4 linked regions of the Homo sapiens genome follow. The protein of the gene in region 2 purifies or fractionates together with the protein of the main gene of each other region. This does not show direct contact. Each region holds a gene or a part of one and is shown on either strand. Other genes may lie near its edges. The genes, in order: MLF1, HEATR5B, RAB43 and PTPN3.

The links.
Region 1: the proteins of HEATR5B (region 2) and MLF1 purify together in Homo sapiens (affinity purification with mass spectrometry; 3 studies listed by BioGRID and IntAct, with this or other methods). This does not show direct contact.
Region 3: the proteins of HEATR5B (region 2) and RAB43 purify together in Homo sapiens (affinity purification with mass spectrometry; 2 studies listed by BioGRID and IntAct, with this or other methods). This does not show direct contact.
Region 4: the proteins of HEATR5B (region 2) and PTPN3 purify together in Homo sapiens (affinity purification with mass spectrometry; 2 studies listed by BioGRID and IntAct, with this or other methods). This does not show direct contact.

What each region holds. Positions count from the first base shown.
Region 1 is NC_000003.12:158,566,293-158,574,203, reverse strand, and holds the start of MLF1 (myeloid leukemia factor 1), read right to left. Parts: upstream 3,011-7,911; 5' UTR 2,904-3,010; coding exon 2,857-2,903; coding exon of another isoform or gene 2,813-2,856; exon of another isoform or gene 2,611-2,812; intron 1,229-2,610; coding exon of another isoform or gene 1,165-1,228; intron 1-1,164. UniProt on the Homo sapiens protein: Involved in lineage commitment of primary hemopoietic progenitors by restricting erythroid formation and enhancing myeloid formation.
Region 2 is NC_000002.12:37,081,359-37,089,325, forward strand, and holds the start of HEATR5B (HEAT repeat-containing protein 5B), read right to left. Parts: upstream 3,015-7,967; 5' UTR 2,911-3,014; intron 2,079-2,910; 5' UTR 2,057-2,078; coding exon 1,931-2,056; intron 398-1,930; exon of another isoform or gene 243-397; intron 1-242. Other genes in the region: GPATCH11 (G patch domain-containing protein 11), read left to right, coding at 7,024-7,082.
Region 3 is NC_000003.12:129,090,805-129,097,821, reverse strand, and holds part of RAB43 (ras-related protein Rab-43), read left to right. Parts: intron 1-2,652; coding exon 2,653-2,836; intron 2,837-5,228; coding exon of another isoform or gene 5,229-5,308; exon of another isoform or gene 5,309-5,322; intron 5,323-6,475; coding exon 6,476-6,726; 3' UTR 6,727-7,017. Other genes in the region: ISY1-RAB43 protein, read left to right, coding at 2,653-2,797. UniProt on the Homo sapiens protein: The small GTPases Rab are key regulators of intracellular membrane trafficking, from the formation of transport vesicles to their fusion with membranes.
Region 4 is NC_000009.12:109,495,302-109,503,146, reverse strand, and holds the start of PTPN3 (tyrosine-protein phosphatase non-receptor type 3), read left to right. Parts: upstream 1-4,839; 5' UTR 4,840-4,928; intron 4,929-5,210; exon of another isoform or gene 5,211-5,484; intron 5,485-7,845.

The sequences.
Region 1 (7,911 bases), on a different chromosome or scaffold from region 2:
TTAACCATTTCATTTCCCACTGTTCATTATCTTTTTATTAATGTTATTTTGCTTTAAATTAGTACTAACATATTTAAGTCAATCATTTATTTAAACAACAACATTGGCTAGGTGCAGTGGCGCATGCCTGTAATCCCAGCATTTTGGGAGGCCGAGGGAGGCAGATCACTTAAGCTCAAGAGTTTGAGACCAGTCTGGGTAACACGGCGAAACCTCCTCTCTACAAAAAAAATTAGCAGGGTGTGGTGGCTCCCTCCTGTGGACCCAGCTACTTGTGAAGCTGAGGCAGGAGGATCGCTTGAGCCTGGGAGGCAGAGGCTGCAGTGAGCCGAGAGCAACCCACTGCACTCTAGCCTGGGCAACACAGTGAGACCCTGTCTCAAACAAACAAACACAGACGCACAACACACCCCCCACAGATATTGTTTGAAAAATATGTGCAATAAACTCTTATTTTAAGACCTTTTTAAAAAATGCTCTCCAAATTGCAAACCTAGAAAATTTAAGGGATCAAAATAAACTAGACTTGAAATCAAAATTCAAACTGGCAAAAAACACTTAGGCTAAAAAGTATTACAAATTTCCCCTCTTAGGGATACAACTAGACTATGTCAATGTGTTTGTAACAATGGCCAAAGTTAGAATTAAGGAAAAAAAATCCCACAACTCAAAAATAAATAATAGTGAAACCAATTTCTGGATGCCTTCTTTCTAGGGCATCACATTACTTCACTGGGAACCTTCAAAGGCAACGAATGGCACTTGCTTACCTGAGGTGTTAAATACACACCCCCCCCCCCCCGCCGCCCTCCTCCCGCCCCCCTCCCCCCGCCCCGCCCCATCAGCTTCCCTGTCCTATTTCTAGTTTTGACAGAAAGCGGAGTCCCTTCACAAACAAGGTTAGCTCTGTAACAAAGCGAGCAAAGAAAACAGCGCAATTGGCATGGCAACTTCCAACAACTTCGAAGAGAAAGCACAACTCTCCAACTTTGTCGTGCTCTCATTGACACATTCCCCACTCACATGGAAAATGCTGTTTTAAAAACTTCCCCTTTTCAATGAACTGTCATGCTATAAAATATTACCTGTTCCTATTTGGAATTTAAAGAGGAGCTATAAAATATTCCCTGCTCCCATTTGCAATTATGTGAACATAATTCTCACCATAAGTTTCACCGAGATGGTAGTTATGTCACCTGCAAAGCCCTTGAAGCTGCAAAGGCCAACTCTGCACACAGGAAGCCATGACGGGCACCCAAAGTCCGGCCAAATGGAAAGCAGCAGGCACCCCGGGAGTGTGAGGAAGGGCCTTCTTTCCATCTCATGCAGCCAAATCCTCCTCCCCCTACCTGGGGCCCTCAACTCTCTACCTCACGTCCTCAACCATCCTCCTGCGACCTCACGCCCCCAAACCCTCCTCCCCCCACTGCACGCCATCAACTCTCCTCTGTCCACCTCACACCCTCAACCCTCCTACCCCCACACCTCATGCCCCTAAACCCTCTTCCCCACACCTCATGCCCCCAAACCCTCCTCCCTCCACCTCACGCCCCAACCCTCCCTCGTCCCACTACCTCTCACCCTCAAACCTCTTCCCCCTACCTCACGCCCTCAACCCTCCTCCCACATCATGCTCTCAAGCCCTTCCCACCAACTCACGCCCTCAACCCTTCTCCCCAACCCTCCTCCCACACCTCATGCCCCCAAATCCTCCTCAGCCCCTAAATCCTCCTCCATCCACCTCACACCCTCAACCCTCTTACCGCCACCTCACGCTCCCAAACCATCCCCACCAACTCATGCCCTCAATCCTCCCCTGCACTTCATACTCCCAAACCCTCCCCACCAACTCACGCCCTCAACCCTCGTCCCTGCACTTCAAGCTCTTAACTCTCCCCTGCACCTCATGCTCCCAAACCGTCCCCCCACCTCACGCCCTCAACCCTCCTCCCCCCACCTCGCGGTCCAAAACCCTCCTTCCCCTCACCTCACACCCTCAACCCTCCCCCACACCTCATGCTCCCAAATCCTCCTCCCACCTCACGTCCTCAACCCTCCTCCTACACCTCACACCTTCAACTCTCCCCCACACCTCATGCTCCCAAACCCTCCCCCCACCTCACGCCCTCAACCCTCCTCCAAACGCCTCACACCCCCAAATCCTCCTTCGTCCATCTCACACCCTCAACCCTCCCCCCTCCACCTTACTCCCCCAAACCCTCCTCCTCCCACCCCACGCTCCCAAACCCTCCCCCCACCTCACAGCCTCAACCCTCCTCCCCCCACCTCACGCTTTCAAACCCTTCCCCCACCTCACGCCCTCAACCCTTCCCCTCACCTCACGCCCTCAACCCTTCCCCTCACCTCACGCCCTCAACCCTTCCCCTCACCTCACACCCTCAACCCTTCCCCTCACCTCACGCCCTCAACCCTCCTCCCTCCCACCTCATGCTCCCAAACCCTTCCCTCACCTCACGCCCTCAACCTCTTCTCCCCACCTCATGCCCTCAATTCTCCTCCCCCCACCTCCCGGCCTCAACTCTTCTCCCCCCACTCCCAGCCTTAACTCTCCTCCCCACACCTCACGCCCCCAAACTTCCCTCCGCCTACCTCACGCGTCCAAACCCTCCTCTCTCCACCTCATGCGCCCAAATCCGTCTCTTCCCTGTCTCACACACCCCTAAATCCTCCTCTCTCTTCCCTCCCAGGCCTCCAAATCCTCGTCTCCTTCAAACCGCCTCCAGAGTTACTCCGAATTCTCTCTCGCCCTCTAAAACTCGCTCTTTTCCCTTAAAATAGCTCCCCTCGATACCTTAATTCCCGCGCGACCCCGGACTCCTGGCTCCCGTAACTCACGAGAAGAAGGGGTCATCCTCAAAACTGCTGTTCAGCATCCTGAACATTCTGGCTCTGTCTTGGGTGGCGGCAGCCGCGGACAGATTGGAAAAACGATGTTAACTCGCCGCGGCCGCGACAAGAGCTAGCCTCCAGTACGGACGACGCCTCACTCGCCGCGGCGCAGGCGGTGCCCGCCGGGATAGGAGGTGCGTGACACCGAGCTGCTTTCCCATTGGACATTGCTCTGTGACGTCACCAGGACGAGGCGGGGAGCAATGCGCCGCTGCCCTGGCAACCGCAATCAACACAGTGGAGGCGAGAAGTCTGGCCTTGCGCCGGCCGGGGAGCTTTTCGCCAAGGCTCCTGTGGGATGGGATAGCTTGTTCTCTGGGCTGCAGGAACCAAAACATTAGACCACCCTTTCTGTGACCTTGGGCATGCCGCCCTCGGTTCCGAGCCGCAAGTCTTTCTTTCGGGGAAAATGAAAAGGGGTCAAGATTTGGACCAGATGACACCCAATGTCCCATTCAACGGTCGCATTCTGTCATCCACAGGAATTAGTCCTGTATCCGAAACATTCTCTGGTAGTCAAAAGCTGTGAGCAAATAATAAGAAAAAATGTGCAAAACGTTTTTTAGTACAGTTAGCAAATAGTGTACTCAGTTGTTGAAGGAAATGGGATGAAGCCTATCAGATTTCAACAAACTTATTTACCTCTTGAGAAAGCTGCTCTCTTTTCGGTTGTCCTTCTGTGTCTCTCTTTCAAAGATCAAGTCTCACTGCGATGCTGATATGTTTTTAACACTTCTCCAGCATTTCTTAACCTAACAGCAGGTTTCAGGCACAGGCCTGCAGCAAGCAGCCATATCCAACTAAAATTCCACTACTATATGTTTTTATTTGCATTACATTTATCAGGGAGCTTTCTATTTATGGCAAGGAAACTGATTTTAAATTTAAATCAGTGATATACATCAAGAGCTAGATTTTGCATTTTTAAGTGAAAAAGTAAGCTATCAAATAGAACAGGTGGAATTTGGATATGGTGGGGCGGAGGGGTAGGCAGAGCAGGGGAGAGGAACATCGTGATAGTGGTACTCAAATTACTAAGTTTTAGAAAACACTATCACGGGGCCTTTCAGGAGCCTGGAGACAGATGGAGGGGAAGACAGAAGAGAGATTAAGGAGAAGAATGGTAAGAGTATAAGAAAAGAGAAAATACATCTTGCATGTCCACCCTTAATTCAGTGAGCTCCCCAGCTTCTCTACGTGGCTGTCTTGCAGAGATAAAGGGGCGTCCATAGCTCATCAGGGCCCCCTGGGATCAGGCCAGAGGGGTGGCACTTTGCCAGCATGAAGAAGTGTGCAAGCCCTGATTTGGAGGTGACAGGAGTAGTCAGGGGTTATTTTGAGAGCTGGAAATTTAATCGTTTGGATCTTTTACTCCCCATCCCCCTTTTTTAGCCAAGTTCTCTGGCAGCTTCCTTCCCCTGAGACTGGTGGCATGGGGTAGGGCAGACTTCACAGCCCAAGATGAGATGGCACAGCCCATCCAGGAAAGAGGATATTTTCTTTTCCTCTGGACTCAGAATAAAGCTCAGAGAACATATACACAAAATTTCGAAAATTTCTAAATAAATTTCAAGGCAAACAAAATTGTTTTATAAGACCTTAAATTGTTTTTCTCTTTAAAATAGTATAAGCACAAGATGTGAAGGAGGCCACACTTAAAAAAAAACTTGAAATGGAGTAAGTTATGTGATAAAAGATGGTGTTAAAATAGTTCTGGATTAAGGCCAAGTAAATTTGTAATGTTACCCTCTAGTTTCTGTGGGAACTTTTTTAGAATCACATTGTTATAAAAGCTTTAGTCCAGGCACAGGTTAGTCAGGGAATTAGCTGAACCTTGTGAAAGCAGTTTGGATCTAATGACAAATGCAAAAAAAAAAAAAAAGGAGGGCAGAGCAGAGTTGGCACTGAAGAGACCTTGACATCATTTTCAGAACTGATGGGTAAGAGGTGGAAATGAAAGAAAGCGTGGGTCAGGAGAGAATGAATACTCCAGCATGGGAGGAATAGAGATGCAGAACAGGACTGAGAGGAGAGGGTCCTGGACTTGGCTGTAAATATAATCATAATAGCTAATATTTATTGAATGTGTGCCAGGCACTGTTGTAGGCACTCCATATGCATTACCTCATTGAATCCTCATTAGCAGTTTTATGGAGTAGAGATGGCTTTTATCCCCATGTATAGATGATGCATTCAAGACACAGAGAAGCTGAATAAATTGCCAAGGTTCACACAGCTAGTAATTGAACTGAGCTGGGTACCTGGAGCTTTCCTCTGTGAGTGCTGGTTATATGGTATGTGAGTGATGAGTCATACTTAAAGATGCAGGATGAAAGCGGGTAATCATTTTTCAAAATCATGCTGACAAGCTAAATGGACCCAAACTAAAAAGTACAAAATTCAGTGGGAATATATTCACATCACATAAATTCAATTCTACAAATATTTATTGAGTGACTACCCAGTGTTGGGGACTGATCTACGACCTTAGGCATCATTGAACAAAACGGACAAAAATCTCTGCCTTCCCGGAGTTTATGTTCTTGTAAGGACAGACTCAAAATAAACAAAATAGAAAATAGTATATTGTAAGGTGATAAGTGTTAGGGAGAAAAGCTGATCAGGGTAAGGAGTATGGAGAGGTGCAATTATAAATAGCAAGTTTTGTGTACGCCTCACTAAGGGGAATTTGAGCAAAGACCCACAGGAAGGAAGTGGATGTCTAGTGGAAAAGCATTCCAGGGCAGTGCTAAAGTAGCATTTGCCTGGTGTATATAATGTACAGTCCTACTCATATGCCTTAAAACTCACCTTCTGAGTGAGGAATGAGATGAGCCAAGTAAACTGAAAATTGCCTAATAGGGTAATAGCTCTCATTTACACTTCATATATTCCAAGGATTGCACTAAGTGCTTCACATATGTTTTCTCGTTTAACCTTTACAGCAACCATGTCTAATATTATGTTTATCCCTAAATTGCATTAAAAAAAGCTGGGACCCAGATAAATTTGATAATTGAATTTTGATAATTGATTTGAAAGTTGATAATTTGATTAAATTTTGATGATTGAAATTTGATGTCACTCAATTCAAACCCAGATTTGTCTTACCCCAAAGCCTGTATCCTCACCACCATCCGTACTTTGCCTCCCTATTTTAAAAATTAACTATTTATGGAGCAAATATTTGCAGTAAACACTTTTACATCTATAATCTGTAACTACACTGTTGCTTAGGTTTCATTTGGAAGGACACTGACTAAGGAAAAACAGAGAAAAGGATGAAACCCAAGCCAACTCTGCAACTCTATTAAAAACACCAAGACTTCAATATGTAAGTGATTTCGTGTTTCTTTCATTAATTTATCAAATACTTATTAAGGACTAGTAATATCCCAGACATTATTCTAGACACTGAGGTTACAAAACTCCCTGGCCTTTCGGAACTTACATCCTAGTGGACAACTCTTTCCCCAGCTAATTTTACAAATACTGTTACAGCACCTCAGAATTTTCATAATGTTTCTGAAGACATTATCTCAAGTGCCCAAAAGAAAATAAACAGGCTCTTGAGTGCTGAACTTTTAACTTAATTATAGCTTTCCAGAGCCGTGAATATTAGGCCATTACAAACACCTTTACCACAATTAAGCTCAATGTGTCTAGGGTTTCGTTGTCCTAATCCCTTTGTCTTAAACAGTGCACAGAGGTCCTCTGAGAATGAGATGCCATAGCAAACTCACAAGGGGCTATGGGACAAATTTTGAGAGAAACTTGGCATGTGTTAGACATTGTTCAATGTACTAGTTTAGGGCAGTTCACATATTTCAATATTAGATTGCACTACATTGTTTTAGATGATGTCATATCATTGGAAAGGTAGGTTTCTGAAAGTTACTATGATGAAAATGAAGTACCTGTCAATGTGGAACAGGAAAGATTGGTGGCAACATTCAGTCTGTTTCTAAAGTTTGAAAAATTGTGCTGTGCTAGGCGGGCACCCATCTGTTAGTATGATTATTTAAGAATTATACAAAAATATGTTTCTTTCAATTTATGTGCATTATTTTTTAAAGGTACTGAGTTTTTAGGTCAGAAATACGCTGTTTGTATCTAAATTATACAATAACGGACCTATTCAGTATTTCTTTAAACCTAGGGGGCACAATGAAAAAATTACTGAGGAACTAAGGGCTCATGAACTAAGATAGTTTGGGGACCTCTGTCTAATCCCACAATCTTTCTTCAAATTAAAAAGAAATGTAAAATATCATGCATTCCTTTTCTAAAAAATATGTTTCATTTTATTTTTCATGTTTATCTTCTTTACAGTCAGCTGACTTACCAGTCCTCTAACAGTTTTGCTTTATATCTTTTTGAAAGATGGGAAAATGGTGCATACCGATTAAGTGACCTGTAAGAGCATAGATCCCAAGGTCTTCAAACTCCCAGTAGGGCTGCCTCTAGTCCATAATGGCATCTTTGCTCAAATTAGAAAAAGTGCCTCCCTCTCATGATACTTCCATTAATGAGAAATTTGTCTTAATAAATAGACAAGGCTGTAATGTATATGATTTGACTGGTGCTCGCTTAGGTGTTGTATACATGTCCATGGCAGCGCTGTTCCTAATCTTGAATTCTTTCCGCTACATAGGAGTTAATTGAGTGCCAAGCTTCATCCCCAAACTCCCAAACTCATGTGCAAGAAATGTAATTTTATTTTCCTGCAATCAACCTTAATTTATCTTCTGGGCTTACATTCCACTGGGAGTCACTCCCATTTCCTCTTCCACGGAGACAATGCCAAGGTGTAGTTGGTTGCTAGCCATGCTGCATTCCTGAAGTCATCTTTATTGCCCTCACTGGGTAGGGCCAAGGGTACTAAACATCTCACTATGTGTGGCACGGTCTGGCACAATGAATCGTCCTTCCCTAAATACCAATAGCAGTCCTCTCCTTTTAAGAAATACACTCTCTAGAGCAAATATTTCCTCCAGCGAA
Region 2 (7,967 bases):
TCTATAGAAATTCCATTAAAACCATACTAAAGGGTAGCAACAACAACAGGAACAATAACAACAAAGCACAAATCCAAAGGGTAAAGAAAACAGGAGAAAGAATCAACACAGTATTTGGAAACCAACTGTTCCCAACAGGGAAAGCTGCAAAATGACCTAACTTACAACACAGGACCCCCTAAGAGATCACGGTTTTTTTAAGCCCTAGGTGCTTTTGGAGGTGGGAGTGAAGTTGTATGTACCTTGAGATAGAGGGAATGGTTGAGAGTCTAATAAGCAGAAAGAATCCTCTTCTTCATTATGGAAGCAGACTGAAAGTTTATTCTCTGGGAAGAGTGAAATATTGTATGTCCAGACTAGAAGAGTCCAGGCACAGTTGCGGTCTGGGAAAACTGCACTGAAAATGGGGAGATGCAGTGAAAGTTCACATACTGAACTTTAAAGTCCCCAGTCTTCTCCCACAACTCCAAGAATGTAGCCAGCTAGCTATATACTCTTCAGACACGACAGTAGAAAAGTATCTTCTGGGGAATGACTAGCCTACAGAAACCTAAAATACTAAGGTCAGGGACCAAACTAGCCTACAGTGAAGTCCAGTTTAAAAGACTGGCCCTGCTGAGAAAAGTTTTTACTACTCACTTTTAAATTTGATCAGGCAGCCAAAGATCATCAGACATTTGAGGGAAGTATCTACTTTTTTTTTTTTTTTTTTTTTTTTTTTTTTTTTTCAGATGGAGTTTCACTCTTGTCCCCCGGGCTGGAGTGCATTAGTGCGATCTCGGCTCCTTGCAACCTCTGCCTTTCCGGCTCAAGCGATTCTCCTGCCTCAGCCTCCCCAGTAGCTGGGATTACAGGCGCCCACGACCACGCCTGGCTAATTTTCGTACTTTTAGCAGTGTTTAGTAGAAACGGGGTTTCACCATGTTGGCCAGGCTAGTCTGGAACTCCTGACCTCAGGTGATCCACCCACCTCAGCTTCCCAACGTGCTGGGATTACAGGCGTGAACCACCATGCCGGGCCATATCTACTTTTAAAGACAGAATATAAAATACACAGACAATAAAAAGTAAGTTGAATCAATGTTGGGAACTGGCTCCAAAACTGGCCATAAATAAAATCTCTGCAGCACTGTGACATGTTCATGATGGCCATAACGAAACCCGAATGAGGGCAAGGAACACCTGGCCTGAAAACCGCTTAAAGGCGCTCTTAAACCACAAACAATACCATGAGCGATCTGCGCCTTAAGGGCATGTTCCTGCTGCACAGAACTAGCCAGACCCACCCCTTTGTTTCAGCATACCCCTTCGTTTCCCATAAGGGATACTTTTAGCTAATCGAATATCTGTAGAAACAATGTTAATGGCTGGCTTGCTGTTAATAGACACTTGAGTAAATCTCTGTTCCGGGGTCTCAGCTCTGAAGCCTGTGAGACCCCTGATTTCCCACTTTACACCTCTATATTTCTGTGTGTGTCTTTAATTCCTCTAGCGCCGCTAGGTTAGGGTCTCCCCAAACGAGCTGGTCTCGGCAAATCAAGGCTATGCAGGAAGAAAAAACAGATTAAAAAAAAAAAAGAGCCTATTATTGACTCCTCAAAGAGATAAGTGAAGACACTGGGATTGTTAGGCAGCATAGAGAGATCACTTGCAACGGGTGACGATGATAAATTTAAAGTGACACCAGTCATATAGCCATGTTTTTCTCCAGTTACAATGAGCTGCCCAGGTACAAACATAAAGAAGATAGGCAATGAGCTGGATTTAAACGAGGTTTGAGTTTTGCCACTAAATTTCCCATTCGTGTAATACTCTCAAGTTCCATAAGTGACCCATAAACCTTCCAAAACATAACATGTGTTTTCTTAAGAATCATGACCACATAATCTCTTCACGTTAATGCAACTGGGAAAAAAGAGCAATACCATACCTTGTTGGCAGCAACCAAGACTTTATCAAGAAATCGCAACCATTCAAAGATGAAAACTGGTCTTTTTGCTTCGGTGATTTGAGCCAAAGCTTCTTCATTTAGCAATAAACTGTGGGCTAACTCCATTACGGAAGTTTGAAATTCACACCTTAAATTTAACAGAGTAAAAAATACTTGTAAGTATTTTTTAATGTTAAAAGTCAAGCTTAATGGAATATACTCACTAAGAAAAGTAGGACTACTCATTTCATTTGGGGAAAAACTCAACTTCTTTGAGGCAAAACCTGAGAACATACTTTTAAATGACAAAAATACAAACAAAAACAGAAGAAAACTACTTGGTAAGGAAGAGTGACTCATGGAGTGAAAAGAAAATTAAAAGAAATTATTGCCAAAAAAGGCATTATTCCAGAAGAAATATGTCCAGCAACACATATGTCATTTACCCGTTCTATAAATGAAAAAACTGAAGCACTAAGATCAAACACCCCAGCCGGGCTTGACAACCATCCTCCTCTTTTTCTCGTCCAGGGTTCGGTACATAGCACCTTTACCCTCCCGCGCTGCACCTGGCCAGAGGGACTGAGGTCAAAACACCCAGCACAGACATCCCGAACTGCAGGTCTCCAAGACTCTTCCTACGCGGATGGGTGGGGCGGCCAGGCCCGGCGGCCGAAGCGTCAGTGACAACACCAGGCGGTCCGGAATGCACCCGAGAAGCCTCGCGCGCTCGGGGTCTGGCTTCACCTGGCTACTCCAAGAACCGCAAGCGGCGGACCCGGGGAAACACCAAGAGGCCGCCGCAAGCCTCCGTGGGGTTCCGCAGGCTGTCAATAGCACGAGGCGGCAGCTCGGAACTAAGCACGGAGCCAGAAAAGGGAAAATGTTCATTACGAACTCAAATGTCTTCCCCACCCGTCTGAAAATGTACGTCGGACAGGAGTCCGTGCGTGTCAACATGCATGCTTCGGCGACCTCACCTCGTAGTCTGGAAGGGAAGATCAGCTGAGCTCCGGGGGTAGAAGCAGCCACCAAGAGACCCGGATGCCCCACCTCCCGCACTCCTACCTGCAGGAAACAAGGGAAGAGCGCTTGCGCGGAGGGCTGGTCTTGCGCAAGCGCAGTCACCACGTCCTCCTATCCCCACCCGCCGCGAATTTCCAATAGAGTCTGCACTAGGAAACTGGTGGGAGCCGAGGTCCGGAAGTCCGACGCTGGTCGGTGGGCGCATGCGCAGCGCGCGCTCTACGGCGCTGAACCGGGGCGAGCAGAGAGCTGTCAGGTAAGAGAGCTGTCAGGTAAGGGTCTGGGGACAACCGGTAGAATGATAAAAGGCAGAGTGCGCTGGCCATGACTACCGTATCACACCGTCAGCCACTTTTCCATCCGTGGGTGGTTGCGTCTGTGGGACGCTTGCAGCCAGGAGGAACGCGTGAGGGAAGGGATCAGCGGTTCCTGAGCGTAGTATTGAGAGTGGGACGTTTCTTGTCACATTTATACTGTAGGTCCATTTCTCCACTTGTATATGTAATGGGACTCTCAATATGTCTGTTTCCCGACTACGCCCCCTAAAAAAACAAAAACAAACCTACTCCTACAGTCTTCCCACTCTCAAAAAACGTTAACTCCGTTCTTCCATGTATTCAGGCCAAAAACTTAGCGTTATCTTGACATCGTTCTTTACGTACTACCTACAACATCAGCAAATCCTGTAAGCTCTACCTTCAAGTGTACCCCAAATGCGACCACTTGCATTGCTATCACTCTGGTACGAGCCTCCATCATCTCTGCCAGGGTATCGCCTTGTGAAGTTTATGCTTATCTTTGATGGAAATGGATAATGCTAAAGTATATTTTACCAATAGAAAGAGAGCTTTAAAAGCAACCTGTAACCCCATTCAGATGTGCCTGGCACTTTAAAGTTAAGTAGGTCTCTTAAAAACAATGTAATCCTATTTGCAAGGCACTATGACCCGGATTCTTTGTGGTTTTGAAATAGTCATTTAGCCATACTGAACCTTAATTTCTCCAACAGGAAAAACTCTTCCTACCTTGTAGAGTTGTTAGTGGTGGTTAAATGTGATAAAAATGTGTGATATACTGGGTAAGTGTTAAACCATTATGTGTAAAAATGCTGTTATTACCAATGAAGAATCTGAGGTTTAGAGGAAGCGGGTGAATTACCATAAATGCTGTATATAATAGTGCACGTTTTTAACTTATAATAAAAATAGGTAAACTAAACTGTAATGTTTAAAGATGCACACGTGGATGACAAAACTATCGAGAAAATGAAGGAAATGATTGCCATAAAAAACAGAATAGTGACTATTCTTAGAACCAAAAGAGAGTTGCAACTGGATAGGGGACAAAGAGGGCTCCCAGGTGCCTGATAAGGTTCTACTTCCTGATAACTTTTGCTACATAACAAATTATCCCCAAATGTAGCAGCTTAAGATAACTGTAATCATTTGTTATCTCACAGTTTCTATGGGTCAGGAATTTGTTAGCAGCTTAGCTTAGTTTAGCATGGACTTTCTTAAGAAGTTGCAGTGAAGATGCCAGCCCAGGCTGAGTCATTTGAAGGCCTGACTGGAGCAAGAGAATCCATTTCCAAGGTAGCTCACTCCTGTGGCTCATGAGTTTGTGCTGGCTTTTAATAGGAGGACTCAGTTCCAATCGTGTGACCTTCTCCATAGAGCTTCTTGAGTATCCTTATTATGTGACCACTGACTTCCTTCAAGTGAGTCATCTAACTTCAAAGTTAGAATGACCTAAGAGCTGCAGTTATGACCAAAAAATCAACTCCATCATCTCCACAAAATCCTGTTGGTTACACAGGTTAATCCTGTTCACTGTGGAAGGAGACTACACTAAGGATGTAGAAAACCACACAGCAAGAATGACTGGGAGTCATTTTGGAGGGTACCACATGGTTACAAGAATGTTTGACTCACAGAAATGTATTAAGCTGTACATTTGTTTTATGTGTTTTCTGTACGTATTTAAAAAGTGTTTAAAAATGACTTGTTGACATAGGAAAAAGTTATAAAATTACAAATATTAAAGACCCTTTTTATCCTCATTGTTGCTAAACAATTATTAAGCATTTGTGTTTGGGATGCAGTGGTAGGTAGGGAGGATATAGGGGACTTGTCTTTGTGTTTAACACAAGATATACATTATCTAGTTGAGAAGATATACATTAAAAATATAAAAAACCAGGCCAGGTGTGGTGGCTCACGCCTGTAATCCCAGCACTTTGGGAGACCGAGTGAGGCAGGTGGATCACTTGAGGCCAGGAGTTTGAGACCAGCCTGGCCAACATGGCAAAACCCTGTCTCTATTAAAAACACAAAAATTAGCTGGGTGTGGTGGTGGATGCCTGTAATCCCAGCTACTCGGGAGGCTGAGGCATGAGAATTGCTTGAACTCGGCAGGTGTAGGTTGCAGTCAGCTGAGATCACACCACTGCACTCCAGCCTGGGTGATAGAACGAGATTCTGTCTCAAAAAACAAAAAAGAAAACCATTAAAAATTAGTATAGTAATCCTTTTTTCATCCAGTGTAATTGTCTAGACACTTGGTTGCAGTTGACAGAAACCCTACTTCAGCAAGCTTAAGTAATGCAGAAATGTATTAGTCTATGTAATGGGGTAGAATGCTAAGTCGCAGCTTCAAAGAATCCGCAGCCTTGGAAACTAGGCTCATTTTCTCTATCTGGCTTCATTCTTCAGACAAGATCCCTTCATGGGGCCAAGAAGATGGCCATCCACAGCCCAGCTTCACATTCTCCCAGTTCAGAAACACCCATAAAAGACCTTCTTTCCCCCACAACCCATATATTCATATAATGTAAGGAAAAAGATGGTTATTTCTCTGGCTGGGTCATCTCGTCCCCTGGTGCTGGACATAGAGTACTATAATTGACCATCTTTGTGCCCAAGGAAATATGGGATACTGACATTGCCACCCTCCACTAAAACCACATGAAGGGCAGAGGGTTGGATTCCCAAAGGAAAAGATGGTAGGCAGGAAAAAACAGTACATATGCACCACAACAAGTGAATACACTTTTGTCTTAAGCAACTGAACTAGCAACATTGACATTGCCTGTGAACCTGCTAGAAATGCAGAACCTCAGGTTCCAGCCCCAGAATCAGATTCTGCATTTTAAGAAGATCTCAGTGCAATTTGTATACACAATAAAGTTTGAGAAGTACTTTTGTAGAAAATTACTTTAACCCTTTAAGGGCCAATAATTACATGATTTTAACTATTTTGGATAGAAACTGTCCCTCAAAATATTTCCACATAAGTGAGTTGTTAACTATATCAACTTCCAAATGAGCAGCTTGGACATAAAGTGCTGTAGAGAAAGGCCTGGAGTGGTCAGGAGAGGTTTCTGAAGGGAGGGTAGCCTTGGCCTACAGGGAAGAAATGTTTGTACTCTGTTCAGAGGGCAGTGAGGAGCCATGGGGCTTGAATAATGAATCCTTAGGGACAGTTGTGTCAGATTATGAAGGACAACATCTCATGCTTTGCAAAAGTGACTGGTCCCCCACTGCCTACAGGGTCAGGTTTAATGAAGGATTTGAAACAGGCTAGTAACGTGACCTGACTTGTATTTAAAAACAAACAAGCAAATAAACAAAAAACCTCTGGATGGGGTGCAGAGAATGGACTGGAAGAGGAGACCAACTAAGAAGCTGATTAAGAAGCTGTTGTAATAGTTCAGGTGAGAAAAAAAAAGTGCCTGAACTAAAGCAGTGGTCACAACTGTAGAGAAAACGTCTGTGAGGAGTTTTATGGAGGAAGACTTGACAGCTTCATAAGAGGTCAGGAAGAAGGAGATAATGATGACATCAACATGGAAACACAGGGGATGTAGAAGGCTGGGGAAAGGGGAAAGAAATGAGTTGTTTAGATTGTTGAGTTTGAAATGTCCACAGATAAAGATGTCCAAAGGGCACTTGAATATATAGTAGAGCTCTAGAGACAGCTCATGGCTGCAGATACAGAAAGGTTTATTTCCATTCTGATAAACTAAAAAAAAAAGTAATTATTACTTTATTTGTAGATACTATAGCCATATGAAGTTGAACATGGCAGAAGAAGAGGACTATATGTCTGATTCCTTCATTAATGTCCAGTAAGTAAATGTGCACACCCAGTGCAATGATATGTATAAGATGTGTAGATTAAGAAATGACATTGATTTTATTTTATTTTATTTTATTTTTTTGAGACAGGGTCTCATTCTGTTAGCAAGGCTGGAGTGCAGTGGCACAATCTTAGCTCACTGCAGCCTCAAACTCTCCAGGCTCAGGAGATCCTCCCATCTTGGCCTCCCGAGTAGTTGGGACTGCAGGCCTGCACCATCATGCCCGGCTAACTCTTCTTTTTTATTATTTGGAGAGACAAGGTCTCACTGTGTTGCCAAGGCTGGTCTCCAACTCCTGGGCTCAGGCGATCCTCCGGCTTTGGCCTCCCAAAGTGCTAGGATTACAGGCATGAACCACCGTGCCCAGCCTGACAGTGATTTTAAATGTGCAGTGGGAAAGTCAGTCTTCTTGCTTTATGGAAATACCTCCTATGTCACCATAGAAAGATACTAGAATCTACTTCCTCCTTTTAATGCTAACCATTTTACTTTTGCCCTTGATCCTTTTTATTGCCTTCTTCCAAGGAAATTTACTCCTTTTCCTTTATTACATCATATTGTCTCTTCTAGCTGCTATACAACTTTGTTCTTTATTATTGCCAACATCCTAGAAACATAGTAAGTCTAAACTTACTATATCTGATTTCTTCAACTTCGTGCTTTCCTTATTTTCCTATGATCTGGCACCAGCCTTCATCATTTCTACTAAAACAGCCATTCTTAGAGGTCACTGATTATGTTCTAATATCATAATAACAAAGATGATCATAGAGGTAGTGCCGAAATATTAACTGTTGTCAGGTGAGTAAGTGACAGAGTTATGAGAAAACTTGGCCAGGCGTGGAAGCTCACGCCTGTAATCCCAGCACTTTG
Region 3 (7,017 bases), on a different chromosome or scaffold from region 2:
ACATTCCAAAAACGACAGCCTCATATATTTTCTCCAGTCCTGTGGTGTGTGTGGAGGGAGGGCTACTCTGCCACCAGCGATGCTGCCATGGCTGGAAGCTGCTCCAGGAGCCCTCTGACCGGCTCCAAGTTGGCTGATGTCTAGGCTGCTGCTCAGGTATTATCCTGGGATTTATCTCTCTTTCCATCATCCTGGCATCTCCCTTTGCCTCCCTTTTCAGTTGAACTCTCTGTTTTCTGGATCCCACATTTTCTTATTTTTTGTTGATTTCTTTAGGTAGAGGAACTTTCAGTCACTCCCTGAGGAAGGGTAGCAGGAAGGTGAATTTTTCGAGGACTGTATGTCTGGGAGTGCCTTTATTAAACCCTCACACTTGACTACTGGTTGGTTGGGTAGAGAATTCTAGGTTGGAAATAATTTTTCTCCTCATTTTAAGGCATTGTTTTGTTGGCTGTCTAATGCCACATGGGTCTTTTGTGTTCTTTCTTCTTGCCTGTTGTTCTGGAACTTCTGCCCATGGATGCAGTGTGGTCTGCTCTGCTCCATTGTGTGTGTGCCTGGTGGGCCCCTCAGTCAATTCTGGATACTTTTCTTGAAATACTTGATTTCCTCTCCTTGATTGTATTGTTCTCTTTTTCTGAAACTCTGATTATCCTGCTCTCCTAGGCTGCTTCTTAATTTTCTTTTCTTTTCTTTTCTTTTTTTTTGAGACAGTCTCACTCACTCTGTCGTCCAGGCTGGAGTGCAGTGGCGTGATCTCGGCTCACTGGAACCTCTGCCTCCCAGGTTCAAGCGATTCTCCTGCCTCAGCCTTCCCAGTAGCTGGGATTACAGGCGTGCACCACCACACCTGGTTAATTTTTGTATTTTTAGTAGAGATGGGGTTTCACCATGTTGGCCAGCCTGGTCTCGAACTCTTGATCTCAGGTGATCCTTCTGCCTTGGCCTCCCAAAGTACTGGAATTACAGGCTTGAGCCACCGCACCTGGCTTTCAATTTTATTTTCTCTCTTTTCCATTTCTTTGTATTTTTTCTCTACTTTGGAGGGATTTCTTCAACTTTATCTTCCAACCCTGATGTTGCATTTTTCATGTATGTTAATCATATTTTTAATTGAGCTCTTTTTTCTTTCTGAATGCGCCTCACCAAAAAAGATACTATTCTTTCCTTGTTCCATGAATCTTTCCCTATTTCTGAAACATTGACGATTGTTTGAGTACTTTGCCTCTGTGTTGTTTCTTCTGTGTTGTGTTTTTGCTGTTGTTTGGCCGGTGTCTTTCGTGTTATGTGTGGAGACGAGTTATCTCCACACCAGAGGTTATCTGGATCCCAGGCTTGTGTGGTACACACATAAACCTTGCACTTCACCCCATGCTGCCATGCATGAGCTGCAAGACGCATGAACTATGGAACATAGGCCTGGTTTTCTTAGAGCCACTCACTGAGGAGTAAATGGGACAACTCAGGAAAGAGGAGTCTTATTTGGCACATTGTGGCCCAGAGCTTTCACTCTCAGACTTCTGTGTTGGGGCTGGGGCAATGGTGGTCACCTCCACAGTGCCAGGGGCAGAGGCCCTGCCTTCAGGAACTGTCTGGGCCTCTGTGGCTTTTCCCCACCCCAGACAGACCTTGAGAGAAAGACCTTTCTCACATACCTTGAGAACTAGGTAAAGAGACACCCCGAGTGTTTGTGCCTGCAAAGGGGGCTGATGGACCTGCAGCTTGGCACACGCCACAAGCTGGGTGTCAGTCTTCAGAGAGCCATGAGAACCTGTGATTGGTGGGGCAGAGAAGGCACACCCGATCCCCAAGGTGTTTGGTCACCAAGATCCCTGGCATATGCCCCTTGGCTGGTGATCTCTGCCCAGAGTGGGCAGCCTCCTGGCCCCGCACAGACCTCTGCCCCTACCTGGCCTGGTATCCATCCTGCCAGACTCTGCTTCTAAAAGACACTAGGGAAGCTCCTCCCACCCATGGGCACCTCTTCTCCACAGCCCACATCTGGTGGGAGATGGGGCAGAGTAGGTGTTAAATGAAGACATGGGTGGCCAAAGCTCCTTGCTTTGGCCAAGCTGGGTCAGCTGGTGGAAACTGCCTTGTACTTAAAGGCCCCATGGGAGGACTCTGCCCATTGCCACCACCAGTCACCCTTCCCACAGTCCTCATCACCAAGCTGTAGAGTCCTGAGGGAACCCTAATGCTGGAGGAGCCTCACACACAGCTGGGTACGTGATGCTCTTGTAGGGGAGGGTACCTGGCCGTGCCTACTGCTGGCCGTGCAGTGCACCTGGAGCCAGCTTTCCAGCCGCCGGCCGCTTGAGCACTGGTGGTTCTGTTTTCGCAGCAGTGGGCCCAGTCCTGAGGGGAGAGGGGCACACGGAGGGGCACGCGGAGGACCTGGGTCAGCTCAGAGTGTACCCCTTCCTCCATCTTTCCCTGGGGACCCTAGAGGGCCAGGACAGGGGCTGCTCACCTTCCCTTTGCTTCCCCATTTTTCCAACAAGGTTGAGCCATTGAGTTGCTTTCTAAGGACTCAGAAGGCCTCCTAGCCCAGTGGAACCACAGCTCTGGGTGTGGGTCTGTGGGGTCACTCTGCCTGTCCCCATGTTCAGCCTGTGCCACTGGGTTCACTGAGGAACCTTATTTCTTTAGCTGCAGATCTGGGACACGGCCGGCCAGGAGCGGTTCCGCACCATCACCCAGAGCTACTACCGCAGTGCCAATGGGGCCATCCTTGCCTACGACATCACCAAGAGGAGCTCCTTCCTGTCGGTGCCTCACTGGATTGAGGATGTGAGGAAGTATGCGGGCTCCAACATTGTGCAGCTGCTGATCGGTGAGTTGGGGATTCCTCGGGACCACAAATCCCATCACTCTGCCTGTCCATGCCTCCCTCTGCTTTTTAAACACAGTGTAACCCTGAGTTCAGAGGGAGTCCCAGCCAGAGTTTGAGCCATGGTTTTGCAAATCCTGATCCTGCTAATCACTTAGAAAGTTACATTCAAGGCCGGGCACGGTGGCTCACGCCTGTAGTCCCAGCACTTTGGGAGGCTGAGGCGGGCGGATCACAAGGTCAGGAGATCGAGATCATCCTGGCTAACACAGTGAAACCTCGTCTCTACTAAAAAAATAAAAAAAAATTAGCCGGTTGTGGTGGCAGGCGCCTGTAGTCCCAGCTGCTGGGGAGGCTGAGGCAGGAGAATGGCATGAACCTGGGAGGCGGAGCTTGCAGTGAGCTGAGATCACGCCACTGCACTCCAACCTGGGTGACAGAGCAAGATTCGTCTCAAAAAAAAAAAAAAAAAAAAAAAAAAAAGAAAGTTATATTCAAAATTGGAATTAGAGGAAAGAAGAAAGAGAGCTGAAGTTTGCTCTGCTGTTCTTCACATGTGTCAAGATTTAGCTCTTGTACCCCGGCTTCTCCTCATTTGACAGGGGCTGGGGCTAGGCTCAGAAAAGTGCAGTGATTTATCCGGGTCCACATGGCCTGTGAGCATACACATGTAGGCTTTGAGTTTGCTTCTGCTGACCTCAAGTCTGTGGCTTTCTCTGTTGTGCCGCACACAGAGCAGGGACACTTGATGGCTTCCGTGCCTCAGAATCCCACAGAAGTCTTCTTCAAGTGCAGCTGCAGGGCCTCAACCTCCAGAGCATCTGATCCAGGCGGGCTGGGTGGGGCCCATGAATGTGCGTTTCTAACAAATTCCCAAGTGACACCCACCTTGCTGGTCCAAGGATCCCACTTTGAGAACTGCTGCTGTGGAAGGATGCTGTTTACCTTTGTTTTCCTTCTATATAACCTTCCCAGACCTGGACTGGAGAAGCTCTTTAGCTCTTATGTTATCCCTGGGGTCCTCACCCCAACAGGTTGATTCTTTTTTTTGAGACAGAGTCTTACTCAGTCACCCAGGCTGGAGTGCCGTGGCGTGATCTTGGTTCTGCAAGATCTGCAAAACCACTGCAACCTCTGTCTCCCTGGTTCAAGCGATTCTCCTGCTTCAGCCTCCCGAGTAGCTGGGCCAACAGGTTGATTCTTCTGACTCAAATGTACAGACAGGGCCTGGACCTGACTCCAGCCAGGAAGAGGGTGGTGCCTGGTTCCATGTGGCCTGCCTTCCACAGCCTGTTCAGACTAGGACATGGAGTGCTTGGCATGAACAGAGCTTTCCTCACGTAGCCTAACCATTTCCCCACCTTTTCTTGCTGGGGGTGGGGGACGGAGTCTCGCTCTGTCGCCAGGCTGGAGTGCAGTGGCACGATCTTGGCTTACTGCAACCTCCGCCTCCCGGGTTCAAGCAATTCTCCTGCCTCAGCCTCCTGAGTAGCTGGGACTACAGGCACGCACCACCACACCTGGCTAACTTTTGTATTTTTAGTAGAGACTGGGTTTCACCATGTTGGCCAGGATGGTCTCGATCTCCTGACCTCGTGATCCACCCGTCTCGACCTCTAAAAGTGCTGGGATTACAGGTGTGAGCCACCACACCCAGCCACCAATTCCCATTTATCCAGGACATTTCTGAAAAACATTCCAGCCTGGCATGGTGGCTCACACCTGTAATCCTAACACTGAGAGGCTGAGGTGGGTGGATTGCCTGAGTTCAGGAGTTCAAGACCAGCCTGGGCAACATGGTGAAACCCCATCTCTACTAAAAATACAAAAATTAGCCAGGCATGGTGGCACACACCTGTAATCCCAGCTACTGCGGAGGCCAAGGTAGGAGAATCGCTTGAACCTGGGAGGCGGAGATTGTAGTGAGCCGAGATCGTGCCACTGTCCTCCAGCCTATGCGACAGAGTAAGACTCTGTCTTCCAAAAAATAATTAATTAAAAAACATTCTATTATAGAACTTTTTTTTTTTTTTGAGACAGAGTCTCACCCTGTCGCCCAGACTGGAGTGCAGTGGCGCGATCTCGGCTCATGGCAAGCTCTGCCTCCTGGGTTCACACCATTCTCCTGCCTCAGCCTCCCGAGTAGCTGGGACCACAGGCGCCCGCCACCATGCCTGGCTAATTTTTTGTATTTTTAGTAGAGACGGGGTTTCACCATGTTAGCCAGGATGGTCTCGATTTCCTGACCTCGTGATCCACCCGCCTCAGCCTCCCAAAGTGCTGGGATTACAGGCGTGAGCCACCGCGCCCGGCCTATAGAACATTTTATACAGCTATGAAAATAGTATTTTATCTATTTATTTATGCATACTTATATACATACATATATTTTTAGAGATGCAGTCCTGCTATGTTGCCCAGGCTGATCTTGAACTCCTGGCCTCAAGCAATCCTCCTGCCTCAACCTCCAAGTAGTTGGAATTACAGGTGTGAGCCACTATATCTGGCTTAGAATAGTATAATAATGAGCCCCCAGGTACCCATTACCCTGCTTCAGCAATTAGCAACTGAAGTCCAACCTCCTCTCATCTGTACCATGTCACCTCCCCTCCCTCGGATTATTGAGACAAATTCACATCAAACCATTTCACCTGGCAGTATTCCAGCATGAACCTACAAAATATTTAAACACTTAAAAACAGCAATATTATTTTCTCATCTAAAAATACTGACATTTCCTTAATAATATAAAATAGCCAGTCTGTATTCAGATTTATAATTGCCCATAAAATTCATATGTGTTTTATTTTTTCCAGTTTGTTGAGATCAGGATCCAAATAAGTTTCACACTTTGAAACTGGTTGCTACATCAATTAAGGTTACCAAGGAAATTTTAGATCTTTACAGACTTTTTTTTTTTTTTTTTTTTTATGACGGAGTTTCGCTCTTGTTGCCCAGGCTGGAGTACAGTGGCACAATCTCGGCTCACTGCAACCTCCGCTTGCCACTCCTGCCTCAGGCACCCGAGTAGCTGGGATTACAGGCCCCCGCCACCACGCCTAGCTAATTTTTTGTATTTTTTTTAAGTAGAGACGGGGTTTCATCATGTTGGCCAGGCTGGTCTTGAACTTCCAACCTCAGGTGATCCACCCACCTCGGCCTTCCCAAATGCTGGGATTACAAGCATGAGCCACTGCGCTTGGCCCAGACTCTTTTTTTTTTTGTCTTCCTTATAACCACATTACAAAAGTCAACCATGTAGAGACTTTTAAAAAATTATTCTAGAAATTGGGTCAAGGAGCAATTTAACAGATTGTTTGGAATGTAATGAAGTCATCTCATACCATCTAGGAGGATCTGGGTAAATTGAGACGGGGTCTCACTGTGTTGCCCAGGCTGGTCTTGAATTCCTGGGCTCAAGCAGTCTTCCTGCCTTAGCTTCCCAAAGTGTTGGGATTACAGGCGTGAGCCACTGCACCCGGCCTAAAAAAGGTTTTTTAAAGAAAGACAGATGACCATGCCAGGGGTGTCCATTTATAGTGGTGGAAGGGAGTGGCATGGGGCTGTCAGCGTGACCCTCCCAGGTGGGACTGGGCTTGCCCAGCCCCCATGGCCTCATGCTGCCCCGGCTTTCCTCCGCAGGGAACAAGTCAGACCTCAGCGAGCTTCGGGAGGTCTCCTTGGCTGAGGCACAGAGCCTGGCTGAGCACTATGACATCCTGTGTGCCATTGAGACGTCTGCCAAGGACTCGAGCAACGTGGAGGAGGCCTTCCTGAGGGTGGCCACGGAGCTCATCATGCGGCACGGGGGCCCCTTGTTCAGCGAGAAGAGCCCCGACCACATCCAGCTGAACAGCAAGGACATCGGAGAAGGCTGGGGCTGCGGGTGCTGACCAGGGGCCGGGCCGGCAGACTGGGGGTTCCCCACCTCCTTGCTCTCCCCAGCCTGCCAAGCCCAGCCCTCCAGAGCCAGCCCTCCTGGGTACCGGCAACTACAGCAGCCGGGTGAAGCTCTGGAGCTCTGCATCCTGTGGCCTGGCTGCGGGATGGAGGCTCTCCTTGAGGAAGGGGAAGCAGGATACCCTGGCGGGCCACCCTGCCAGCCAGCAGCTGGCCCTCCACCATCTTCACATTCCAAGACTGGCCTGAACCCGCCGGTGTGGGCCACAGTAGGAGGGGCCAGC
Region 4 (7,845 bases), on a different chromosome or scaffold from region 2:
CAATTCTGGAGTAGTCATTTTCCCTCTCTTTACATCATTTTCTTTAGCTTGCCAACTTTTGAATTTGTTTCATTTTTCCAGATTATGAAAGAAACATACATAAGATTTAGAGAACTATAAAGACATACAAAAAATAGACACCCAAAGACTTGAAATTCTCCTAATTTGTAAAAGATAACTTCTGTAGCCTGCCTCTCTGCACATAAATGCAATAGTCAGACACACCACCAATAATATTTTGGTGCAGTTTTTCTAGTTTTTGTTCTATGTGTATGCATTAAATTGAAATACAGGAAGTTACCGATGTTCAACCATTTTGACCCATAAAATGGCAATTTCATATTTATTTATTTGAGACAGAGTCTTGCTGTTGTCCAGGTTGGAGTGCAGTGGCACAACTAGGACTCACTGCAGCCTCAACCGCCCTGACTCAAGTGATCCTCCCACCTCAGTCTCCCAAGTAGCTGGGACCACACATGGGTGCCACCACATCCAGCTAATTTTTTTCTTATTTGTAGAGACAGGGTCTCACTACATTGCCCAGACTGGTCTCAAACTCCTGTCCTCAAGCAATCCTCCCACCTCAGCCTCGCACAGTGCAGGGATTACAGGTGGGAGCCACTGCACCCTGCCTGGCAATTTATAGTTCAACCTACTGAATTCCCACATACCATACCATGTGTATTTTACATCATATTCTTTTCATGTCATTCTAACAGCACCACTTGCCCATGTATTTATGGATTCTCGGGCTCTTCATAAGCTTGCATTAACAGCACAAATAATTGATGAGCATTAGCATCTCAGCTCAGAGCACTGCTTTGTAAATCACTGGAGCAGTACAAGTAGGGCAGACTTCCCAAGTCTTGATGCGAATGACAATCCTCAGTGATTCTTCCAGGAAACTCTTCCTATAAATTCCCTTAACCAATTGCCTGCATACAGTGCCTGGCACCTGATTTTCTGCCCCAATGGCAGCTTCTGGGAATGCTGCTAATAACTATGTTTAGATGTTCATCTCTTGTTCCTCTTTTACGAATCTGGTCCATTACCTGTGATGTATATTCAGTTTGTAGCGTATCTTACTCTCCAATAAAATGATGCTCTTTTGTTTTCTTTGTTGTTATTGTTTTTCACGGTTTCTGGATCTTTCAGCCAGGTACAGTCTACTGGCACTAAGAGAGAGAGGTGACTATATTTTTGAGCTTCGCAGGAGGAGGGCTGCTCTTACGGTCCTGGCTTTCTCTCAGCAAACATCATCAGGACTATCAGCTCTCTGTCATTTCATCACAGAAAAGTCCCTGAGGAGTCCATGGACCAGGTGGTTCCATCATGTTGTGATCCTGCCTCCAAAGTGAATGCCCAGAGACGATAATCTATGTGGGTCCTCTCTGGACCAGTCGATCTGGGACTGAGTACAGCTCTATTCCCAATTGGGCTTTAATTTGCTCTACACTTGGCTGAGTTCAACAATAGCCTAAGAAGATTATGTGCCCATTCAAAAGCCCCATTTACGTAAGGTTTGGGAGCTTATGATATAAGATCAACTGTCATTGGTAATAATAACCTTATGTCACTCCAGATGCAACAGCTTAAAAGGATAGACTTTAACATTTTGGCCCCAAGAATAAAACAGTAACAGGAGACTAGAACATTTAAAGGTAATCTGTAGCCTACAAACACATCAAAGGGTAGAGAAAATAAGGCAAAAAACCCTACAAAATTAGATGACATATAGCTTCTCTTATCATCAATACATGGTAATCTACTACACAGAGAGGCAGTGTGTCCTAAAACCTAACACCCTGACTTTGAGATCAGATTGACTTGTGTTCAAATCCTCACCCCCTTAACAGCTGTGAACAGCCCCTAGATTGTTTTCTCTTCTGTAAAACTGAGCTAAAACACCCACTCTGTAGAGTGATGGTAAGGATTAAAGAGAGAATATATATAAAATATTCATCGTACTTGAGCTTGATAATAGCAGTTACTGTAACTGGATATACACAAAACAAGAATTTTTAATTTGATCTTTTAAATGCTTATTATTGCAAACATGTCATTGTGACATTAATAAACTTTTAAAAAACACCCAAACTTACTACTCCAAAAAAATGACTAGTTAATTTTCCCATATTTCCTTCCAGTCTTGGTGAATGTGTCAACACCATGTTTATACAATCTATTTGTGTTTTTAGCTTTTTTTTTTTTTTTTATTTGAGACAGAATCTCGCTCTGTCATACAGGCTGAAGTACAAATGGTGCCATCACAACTCACTGCAGCCTTGACCTTCCTGGCTCAAGAGATCCTCCCACCTCAGCCTCCCATGTAGCTGAGGCCACAGGTGCATGCCACCACACCTGGATAAGTTTTTTTTTGTAAAGATGGGGTCTTGCTATGTTGCCCAGGCTGGTCCTGAACTCTTGGGCTTAAGCTACCTTCTCACCTGGATCTCCCAAAGTGCTGGGATTACAGGCATGAGCCACCTCACCCGACCTGTTTTCTGCGGTTTTTTTTTTTTTCATTTAACATTGTACCGTGTTTTCCCTGTTGCAACATGGTCTTTTTAACTTAGTGTAAGATAGTTATTATTTCAACTAATATACCATAACCTAATTAATCATCCCTCTGTTATTGAGTACTTAGTTTGTTTCCAATTTGGGGAGTATTCTTTCATTTTGTTCCTGCTTCTGTTATGGTGATTTAAAACGCATGATTTTTAAAATATTTAGGTCTTTCCTTTAGGTGTAAGCATGTTCCTAGCTCAAAGTTGAGGGCATCGTTTAAGCTAACAGCTGTTAGCTGTGGGAAAAGAAAAGGTAATTTCAGTCTAGGGGTCAGCAGATTAAGACAACTTCGAAAATTCACACATCCTCCGTTGACCTCGGTTTCCTCATCTCAGCAGTTGGCAAACTGGCATGAGGATGACGGCTGATTTTGGTAGGCACTCAAGAAATGGATCTTTAAGGTGGTCTAAACACGTTCACGTTCCTTATTTCACTCAACTTCCACTCGGGTGCCCAGATCGAAGCGTAGGTATTCACAATGGTTGAAGCACAGAGAGGATAAGGCAGTGGGGAAAGGACAGAGAATGCCTCCTGCTGAGCCCGGGGGCGCTGGGTGGAGCTCTGCGGGGGGCGTCGCCTGCCCCTCCAGGGGGCTCCTCCTTCCGGGGGCTCCGGCCCCGCCCGGCTCCGAGCATGCCCAGTGCGCTCCCCGCCCGTCCGAGTGGTGCTGAGCGGGCGCCGCGGCTCCAGGTTTTGCTGGCGACTCGAGGCCGGGCCGGGCCGGGCGGGGCGCGGGCGGTCCTGCCCCTGGACTCCGGGCTCCGTCGGAAATCCCCCCGACGCGATGCACGGGCGGCACCCGCTGCAGCGGCGCTATCCCGGGACGTGCGACTCCGGGACAAGGACCGAAATGAGGTTCCAGGGGCTGCCGAGGCCTCAGTCTATCCCTGGAACGACTGCCCCCAGGACCTGGCACCCAGGCCCGACTGGAGGGTTCCAACCATCTCTGCATCCCTTCGTTCACATATTCAACAAATAATGTTTGAGCGCCTAGTGTGTGCCAGACAGTGTTGCAGGGGGGTCACTGCAGTAAAGACAAGCAGAGCTACAGCCCCAAAGCTGACATTTAGGAGGGAAATACAACATGAGAATTAAACAAATCGGAGGAAAAGCCAAAGTGACCAACCTCATCTGCTCCTCTGCCTCCTTGCCGTTCCCTAAGCGGTCCGGCGCTCTTTTGGGTCTTGGCACTGGCTGTTCCCTCGGCCAGGAATGCTCTTCCCTGCTTATCTGCGTGGCTGAAATACCACTATCACCTTCTCAGTGTCACCCAATCAGACCGTCCATCAGCTCAAGGGCCCTATCCGACCGCTTCACTGAAAATTCACTGCTTACCTCCAGCCCCAAATCTCCTGACCCTGCTCTTTTTCCTCTTAGAACTTATCACTTTCTAATATAATGCATAGTTTGCTAATTTGCTGTTTATCTGTTACCTGTCCCTCTTTCCCCAAACTCCACTGGGGGACAGAATTTTTGTCTATTTGTTCCCCACGCGAGAAAAACCAGAATAGGTGCTCAATAAATATTTGCTGAAAATGGATAAATCACTGTTAAATGCTATGAAGAAAACAGAGTACACGGAGTGGTCAGGAGCAGAGGGCTAATCGAGGAAGGTGGTCAGGAAAGGCCTCTCTGAGGAGGGGACCTATGTACAATGAGAAGGCGCCGGCCACGTGAAAAGCTGGGCAAGAACGTCCCACAGAGGGAAAGGCGGGCGCCAATGTCCTGAGGTTAGTGAAGTTCGAGTGTTTGATGGACAGAAAGGCGCTCTAGGATCCGCAGGAAGGCAGGTGTGAGATGAGACGGAGGTGGGAAGCAGGAGCACAGATCAGGTAGGGGTCCCACGAGCCTTGGGGAGGTTTAACCAGGGAAGCTTACTAGTGCCAAGGGACGAGCACTGGACTGGAAGTCAGCGGGACCTCAGCTCAACCGCGCACCCGTCGTGCAAGACTCCTCATTTCAAAGTTTCTTTGGGCGCCGACTTCTTGCCTTCCCTAGGCATGAAATCACTGAGGGCCTGGCACACAGTAGGTGCCCAGTCATGGCTGTGGAACGAATGGCTGCATGCATGCGCGAGGGAACTCAGGACCTGCCCGGAGCTCGGCGGAGAGCCCCGGTGCCCCTAGGAGATGCGTCGGGGCGCGCCAGCCCGGGGCGGGGGCGGGAGAACACCGCAGGCCAGCCCGGACGCCCGCCCCCCGCCCGGCGCGCGGGCCCGTCGCGGCCAGCCCGGCCGGCGGGAACCGCCCGCGGGCGGCACTGGGCATGCTCAGACGGCGGCCAGGTCGCGCCGCGAGCGAGCTTCCGCGCCGCCCGCACGCGCGACCTACCTGGGCGCTCCGCGCCCCCGGATGCTGCAGGTACGGGCCCGTGCGACCCCAGCGGGCCGGGGGCAGGGTGCGGGGCTGCCGGGGGCCGGGGTCGCGCTCGGCGCCACCCCGCCCCCACCCGTCCCTGGGGCGCGCGGCGGACGCGCGGGCGGGCTGGCGGGTGCGGCTGCACCGGGATCCCCGCACCACGTCGGGGCGGGGAGGGGGCGCCCCGCTGCGCTCACCTGGCGGGGCCGGGGCGGGAGGGCGCGGGCGGGGCGCCGGGTGGGGCTCGGCCGGGGCGGGCTGGCGGCCGGGACGCGGCGCCGGAGCGTGGGCGTGCGCTCCAGCCGGGCAGGGGCGGGCGCAACCCGCGGAGCCCGTGCGTCCGGCACCTCCGGAGGACCCCGTGCCGCCGCGACCCCGGCTCGGGGCTCCGAGGGGGCACACAGCCCGCGGGGAGCTAGCCGAGAGCGGCTGCCAGCGCTCGGCTCCCAGGGCGAATCCGCCTCTCGGCTTTCAAAGATGGCATTTCCTGGGCCTGGCACGAAACTCCAGAGCCAATAAATCCTCCCCGTTCCGCGGACGATATGGAATGATTTATCAGGTACCTGCGGTGAGACAGCTGCAGATGGGGGAGTGTATGTGAGAGTGCCCAGCCCCCCCGAAATTCCCATTTTCAGCTACCTAAACTTACTGAGAAGTTGCGGTTGCCTTAAAAATTCATGGGAAGTTGAGACAACTTGACACCTGGGTTTTCCAAGCTGGTGGAAAGAGCTTGTGACTTGGAAACTGGAGACCTCCGTTCAAGTTGGGCTCCCCCTTGGCCAGCTGGTGACCTTGGCAAGTTGTTTAACCTCTCTGGTCCTCAGTTTCCTCCCTTGCAATCAGCTGGTAATAATGCCCACCTCGCTGGGTTGTTGAGTGGATTAAGTGGGATAAATTATGTGGAGGTGTTTGGCACCGTGCCCGGCACAAAGCTAGCAAGCAGTTGGCGTGATGTGAATTTAATTCGTTTAGAGACCCTCGTGGCTCTCATTTCAGGAGGAAATTAGAATTAGGAAACCATCTTCAGGGCCTAGTGGTGGAGTGACAGACCCTGTCTCTGTGCCCAGGAGAACTTCTGCCGAAGTCAAGGCCTTCGGAAAAACAATTTAGCCGAATTGTAATCAGAGAGCATCTCCTTTAAAAGCAGTTTTATACATTCAGAAACTCCAGAAGTTGGCAGTTGGCTTCACTTACAAAAGAGCTGTTTTGCAAGATGATCCATCTTGCAAATGTTTAAGCAGATGATGGGAGAAAGTAAAGCCTGCTTAGGAAGATTTCTGTTTTAAAAAGCTCCCAAATCCAACTTTAAGCGATTATTTAGATCAGGGTTTCTCAGCCTTGCACTATTGACATTTAGGGTTTGATAATTCTTTGTGTCCTGGGCATTGTAGGGTTTAGAAGCATCCCTGGTCTGTAGATTCCAGTAGCAATTCCTGTTCCCCAGTTGTTCCAATCAAAAATGCCTCCAGTATTGTCAGATGTCCCCTAGGGAGCAAAATGCCACCCCAGCACCCCTTTAGAACCACCAATTTAATTCTTGCTTTCTGTCATTAGCCCGAGTTGTTTGAGAATTTCATCTTGTGCTTTTGTAATAACTAACCTTTGCATAGCCTTATAGAACTTACAGAGTACATTCACCTGTATCGTCTTATTTAATCTTTACAACTCCCTTGTGAGACTGGTGTCACTCCCATTTTACAGATGAGGACATGGAGGCTCTGAGCAGCCAATTACACAGTATGTGGTAGAGCTGGGGTGTAACCCAAGTCTCCTGGTTCCAAGGGCAGGTCTTTTTCTTCTGCATCAAGCTGCCTGTCCCTTTGTTGTATGGAGGCTTTGATATGGATGACTTTCCGGATGATTAAATCAAGATGTGAAGTATATTGGAAGTTGGAAACTTTTCTGAGATTGACTAGTTGAAAATTAACAACAGTAAGCTATTATCTGACAGAGTAGGCCATTCTAGTTAAATATTCTAGTTTATAGCGAGCTCCCATAAATCCCACATGCAGTTAATGGAATACCAATTTGCAGAGAATTAGAGTAGAATAGAACGTGCCTAATACTCTGTATTGATCCTGCGTTTTCTCTGGTGATTTGCCATCTCCTAAAAAGGACTCATATATGCAAATTAGACATTAGCTGGGGAATATAAAAGGTCAAGTTACTGAAGGCATTTCAGAGTAGCTGAGGCATTTATTGAACTTCTGTATGGCAGATGTAGTGCTGAGTGGGGATGTGGGGTGCACCCCAGAGAATCCAGGTTGCCTGCATCCACTTCCGTGCAGGAAAGGGCAGGCCCTGGTCAGGCCAGACAGGTGGTGGGCCCTCAGACAGCTTGGAGCAGGAGAAAAAGCCCAAGTTACCATGGAAGCAGATTCAGGATCCCTTACCATATCATCAGTCATGTCTCTGACCCCTCGATTCATCTTTTATCATACAGAAGATACTCTGGTAGTTTTAAGCATTCTCATTCAAGTCTCAGAGACCTGGTTAGGGAGGCAAGGTCAGAGACAAATCTTATCCCTGGAAAAAGCTGGGGTTCCGAGGTGGTAATTGGCTTCAGAGAATTGAGAGCAACGCTTTGTTGGCTGTGAACTGGAAGGTTTCACACACAGTGGGGTTTGTTGCTGCCAAACCCCACCCCATTCCCCACCTTGCAGATAAGGAAACTGAGCTGGCAAAGGTAGAGTGGGGCCAGGAGCAAGAGGGACCAATTTTGACCTTCTGAACTACAGGTCCAGGCACACAAGAGACATTTTCTAGGACAGGCATAACCTACCAGAAGGGCTCAGCTTTGGGGATGGGAGGGAGTGAGAAGACATGGCACCCTGCCTTTCCCCAACCCTCCGGGTTTGTGGTGGTTGAGAAAAGACCAGCAATTTGTGGTCCCTACATCTTTTCCCAGGAGAGCTCACCT